2 separate regions of the Homo sapiens genome follow, and region 2 is linked to region 1. A link means that fine-mapping ties the variant in region 1 to the expression of a gene that starts in the linked region. Tissue or cell type: whole blood. Region 1 holds a variant in brackets; the other region holds the start of a gene. All regions are shown on one strand. Distances are from middle to middle.

Region 1 (2,682 bases):
TGGAGTCAGACTCCTAGACCAGGAGTCGGGGAGAGTGGCAGTGTGCTGCAACAGGGACAGGAAGTATCACCATTTCTCATGGGCACCTCTGGGGACCAGCAAGCAGGTGTGATCAGCTGAAGGGGGCAGCAAAAGGGGCCAGTTAGGAAAGGAGACGCCCACAGCCAGGGGCAGACCACTGAGAGCTTCTGCAGAGGTTCAGGATGAGGCGTAACGGAGTTGGGCCTTGCTGACTATACAAACTGAGGATGAAGCAGGAAAGTGAGAACAAAGCCACAATAACCGCAATAATCAGGTACCAGATGATAGAGGGGCCTGGGGGAGGGAAGACCCAAGAGAGACTGAAGAACCAAGCGAAGATCTTGGAGGCAGCTTGGACATTGGTGGAGGTAGCTCCCAGACTAAAGGTGTGGACTAGCAAGGCTCAGGTTTGTGATGTGATGCTAGGGCTATCTGCATTTGCTTTGTGAAAATGCTCATAAGACAGTCAAATGACATCTGACATCACCCTACAGAATGCAAGAATATGCGTCTACCCAGAAGTCACTAAGGCTGTGATATGGGATGGGACTGGACACTTGAGTCATGAAAACAGAGACAAATGCAAGCATGCAAGCAGTTGAGGAAATACATGCCAATGTCTGATTACCTACCTCCACTAATATAGCATGTCCCGGGGCCAGCTCAAACACCGAAGGCAGGATTCCAAAAGGAGGTTGTTCAACAAAGCCGACGGTTGCAATGGCCTTAAAGAAAAGCAGATTACCCAACAGTGTGGAAGACATTGTAAAAGCCAGTATTCAGATTGCAAACTTCTCTCCTTCAAACATCCATTTTGCAATGTGAAGGAACTTAAGGATCATCCAGTCACATGGTAATGAAAAAACTGAGGCTTATTCATTCAGCAGGCATTTACTCAGCCATCACCAGGTACCAGGTGAGGTTCTGAAGGTTAAGGAGAGTAAGTCTTAGAACATCTGTGAAGAGCTGACTACTGACAGGAGGTACAAGGAACACCATCACCAAGTGATTGGGACACAAAGTGACAAGCGTGTGAGAAGGTCTCACTCAGGAGGTGAGCTGAGTGGGCCCTCCCCTGGGCTCCCAAAGCACATTGTCCTTTTCCTACAGTAACACCCAGTGTCACAGGTGCTAGCATATGTGTCTGCCTCCAACCCTGACCCACCCCTGGCTACAAGCTCCTGAGGCACGAGAGCTGCAGCCCCAGTGCCTACACAAGAAGTCACTTAGCATGCCAGGGACACAAACCCATGCCTACAAGACCCTGGTCAGTAACAGAAATGAGTGAAATGTCTTTCTTGGAACATCTTGAAATGTCATCCTCTAGATGTATCCCTTGTTTTCTGGGTACAAATAAATATCTTTGCTATGAGAAAAATAATGGTGTGAGCATGCTAATGGATGGTGTCAGTGCTGATGGATGGTGTGAGCATGCTGATGGATGGTGTCAGTGCTGATGGATGGTGTGAGCATGCTGATGGATGGTGTCAGTGCT[G/A]ATGGATGGTGTCAGTGCTGATGGATGGTGTGAGCATGCTGATGGATGGTGTCAGTGCTGATGGATGGTGTGAGCATGCTGATGGATGGTGTCAGTGCTAATGGATGGTGTCAGTGCTGATGGATGGTGTGAGCATGCTGATGGATGGTGTCAGTGCTGATGGATGGTGTCAGTGCTGATGGATGGTGTGAGCATGCTGATGGATGGTGTCAGTGCTGATGGATGGTGTCAGTGCTGATGGATGGTGTGAGCATGCTGATGGATGGTGTCAGTGCTGGGATGCTCTTGGGACTGGTGGAGCTGGGCACTCAGGACAAGGTACACAGGGCCTGCCCCCAGCCCTGGCCAACAGGCTCACAGTGAATCCTGGCCCTGGCCTTCATATCTTCCAGTTTTTCAAAGGACTGGAAATGTAGAACTTTATATAAAATCTCCATTTTTTTTTTTTTTTTGAGATGGAGTCTCACTCTGTCGCCCAGGCTGGAGTGTAGTGGTGCGATCTCGGCTCACTGCAACCTCCACCTCCCGGGTTCAAGTGATTCTCCTTCCTCAGCCTCCTGAGTAGCTGGGACTACAGGCACATGCCACCACACCCGGCTAATTTTTTATTTTTAGTAGAGACGGTGTTTCATCATATTGGCCAGGCTGGTCTCAAACCCCTGACCTCAGGTAATCTGCCTGCCTCAGCCTCCCAAAGTGCTGGGATTACATGTGTGAGCCACTGCGCCTGGCCAAATCTCCTTATTTTTAAATGTTGGCTCAGAAAATGTTAAGTGCTGTGCCAAACAAATACCAGCAGAATTTGGCCAAAGGGCAGCCAATTTGTAACCTCTGAACTATTCAGTCATTTGCTACAATAAAGAAGGACTGAATGAGTGAATGCAGTCACATTTGAGCCAGGGCTTGAAGGATAAGAGAGGTGATACCGCTTGCCCAGCATGGTACAGGTATTAGTGACATAACCAGAACTACAACACTGGACCCTTATACATCCATTCTCATTCGGGTTGTGGCAGTTGCATAGAGAGTTTACAACACTCTGCGTTCTGTGTGTTTCCAATCATAGGTATACTCTAGTAAGTTCCTCTGGGGGTTATTTCCTTTGATGGACTTGTAATTTTTCCAGTTAGCAACCTGTGATCACTCACCTTGAAACTTAGTGGTGG
Region 2 (2,682 bases), 50 kb before region 1:
GGGGTGCCCACCTCTACCCTTGAGGTCTCGAGGCGGGTGATGTGGGGGGCGTAAGAAGTAGGAATCTGCCTTTTGAGATCTGGAGAGGTCCACGGCACCGCCCTCGAGGGTCTGGTGATGGTGCTAGTAGGTTGGCGGCGGAGTGAGGACGACCCTCCTTCGGGGGTTGTAGGAAACGGGCCTTGCTTTTTGGGATCTGGTGGAGCCACAGTTCTTCCACGGAGGAATCTGAGGGGTTCATACGGTCCTGCCCTCGAGGATGGCGAGGAGGGGACAAGTGGGAAGGCACCAGCTCTGCCCTCCACTGTCTCTGGGGAACACGCAATCCTGCCAGTAGGGGTATGGGAAGACCCCTGCTGTGCTCCCCGAGGTGGGAGTGGGAAACGGACAGCTGCCTTCTGGAGCCTGAGGCATGCCGTGGCCCTGCCCTCGAAATGGTTGGGGACGTCATGACACTAGGTTGGGGAGCACAAGGCACCCTGTCCTTTGGTGTCTGTGGAAAGCCCAGCACTACTCTCCAGGGTCTCAGGTGAAGACATGGCCCTGCTATTGGGAGTCAAGGGGGCACGTGGCCTTGCCCTTTAGGTTTAGGGACACAGTCCTGACCTGGGGAGCCCTGGTTCATTCATTTACTCATTCGACAAGTACTTATTGATCATCTACTAAGTGTCAAGGGTGTCGCAGGCTCCCCGGATACATGGTACCTCTCTGCCTTGGTGGAGACCCCAGCCTAGCACGGGAAATGGGCACTAATAAAATCATTCCAATTGGGTGTAAAACTGGTAAAAGTGTGAAATGTTCATTCTCCAGTTAGAGAGCTTGTCACACCCCGCATGTCTGTAAAATCTGTTCTCCCGGCCAGCCCGGAAGCCCAAATTCCCTGTCTTCTCGAAAGAATGGGAAAGCCCAACCACGTCGGAGCAGGACTCGGGCGTCTCGGAAGTATTTAGGTCCCCCAGCTCGGGTACTGGGACCGGAGGGATAGCAGAGCCTCCTAGGAAGTGGGTAGAGGAATTAGAGCCTCGGCTTCCATCTCCAGCCCCCAAGCAGTAAGCGGTCCTGGCTGCCCAGCCTTCCGTTTGGCTGCGGGCAGGAGACAGGGATTTGGGGGTCAGGTCTCGGGTTTGGCTACAAAAGGTGGAAAGACTTCCGGTCTGCATTTCTGGGCGGGGATTCGTAAAGATACACCTTCTGGTTGGCTGCGGTAGGCCAAGGTAGGCGGGGCATTGAGTGGAAAGCTCGGCTGGGCGGTGCCTGTGGGCCCTCCTATAGAGGGCTTGGTAGGCGGTGGCGGGGAGGGGCGGGTTCCCAGGCCGACTCTCCTTGTGGTTGGCTGAGGCTGGAGGTGGACGGGACTTTTGGAGGGTCGCTCGCGTCTGTTCGCAGAGCTGTGGGCGGAGTTGAGGCCTTGGAGGCTGAGATGTGGTTCTGCGCGTGTGCGGACGGCTGTCTGTTAACTCCGCGGTCAGTTCCCGGACTGGTGGCTGGTCTGCAGGGTTGACCTGCGCAATGCAGAGGCTGCAGGTAGTGCTGGGCCACCTGAGGGGTCCGGCCGATTCCGGCTGGATGCCGCAGGCCGCGCCTTGCCTGAGCGGTGCCCCGCAGGCCTCGGCCGCGGACGTGGTGGTGGTGCACGGGCGGCGCACGGCCATCTGCCGGGCGGGCCGCGGCGGCTTCAAGGTGAGGCCCGAGGGTCTGGGCGCCGAGTGTGGGAAGACGCCGGCGCGGGCTGGGGTCCGGTTCGTATGTTTGGTTATCCTGGACGCCGGAGGCAGCTCCGCACCCAGCTGTGGTCGCTTTGTCTCCCTGGGGTGGGCATGGGGGAGTGGGGGTCACTGCGGCTGCTCTTTCTGCTGCAGGACACCACCCCCGACGAGCTTCTCTCGGCAGTCATGACCGCGGTTCTCAAGGACGTGAATCTGAGGCCGGAACAGCTGGGGGACATCTGTGTCGGTGAGCGAACCACTCAGGCCCTGCGCTGGGCCTTCCCCGTTCTTCCGTTCGTCCAGAGCTCTCCTCACCTCCCCGCCCCGAATTTTCACTGGGGGAACCTCCATGGCCTTGACCTTTGAAGGGGTCCTGCCCCTTCACACCTGTGGGTATTTCTCGTCAGATGGGAGGAGAGACTGAGAAAAGAAATAAGACGCAGAGACAAAGTGTAGAGTGGGCCCAGGTGACCGGCATCGGTCTCCGAGTTCCCTCAGTATTTATTGATTACTATTTTCACTATCTCGGCAAGGGGAGTGCGGCAGTGTGGGGGAAAGGAAGAGAGATCAGACTGTTACTGTGTCTGTGTAGAAAAGGAAGACAGAAGAAACTCCATTTTGATCTGTACTAAGAAAAATTTTTCTGCCTTGAGATGCTGTTAATCTGTAGCCTTAGCCCCAACCCTGTGCTCACAGAAACATGTGCTGTATTGAATCAAGGTTTGAGGGATTTAGGGCTGTGCAGGATGTGGCTTGTTAACCATTTGTTTGCAGGCAGTATGCTTGGTAAAAGTCATCGCCATTCTCCATTCTCGATTAACCAGGTACACAGTGCACTGCGAAAGGCCGCAGGGACCTCTGCCCAAGAAAGCCTGGGTATTGTCCAGGTTTCCCCCCACTGAGATTGTCTGAGATATGGCCTAGTGGGAAGGGAAAGACCTTACAGTCCCCCAGCCCGACACCCGTAAAGGGTCTG

The links. PIP is the estimated chance that this variant, and not a neighbour inherited with it, causes the effect.
Region 2: it holds the start of ACAA1, and the variant in region 1 is fine-mapped to the expression of ACAA1 in whole blood (INTERVAL, PIP 0.98).

The regions. Positions count from the first base shown.
Region 1 is chr3:38,086,360-38,089,041 of GRCh38, reverse strand. It overlaps DLEC1 (DLEC1 cilia and flagella associated protein), which reads right to left. Exons shown (of 37, transcript NM_007335.4): 9 at 2,665-2,682; 10 at 654-746. Among named protein-coding and RNA genes, the nearest start is that of DLEC1, 48 kb to the right of the region's middle. The variant G/A (reference allele first, on the strand shown) is at 1,517.
Region 2 is chr3:38,135,863-38,138,544 of GRCh38, reverse strand. It overlaps ACAA1 (acetyl-CoA acyltransferase 1), which reads left to right and starts at 1,418. Exons shown (of 12, transcript NM_001607.4): 1 at 1,418-1,680; 2 at 1,860-1,953. The coding sequence starts at 1,510. RefSeq lists enhancers at 1-200, 1-303.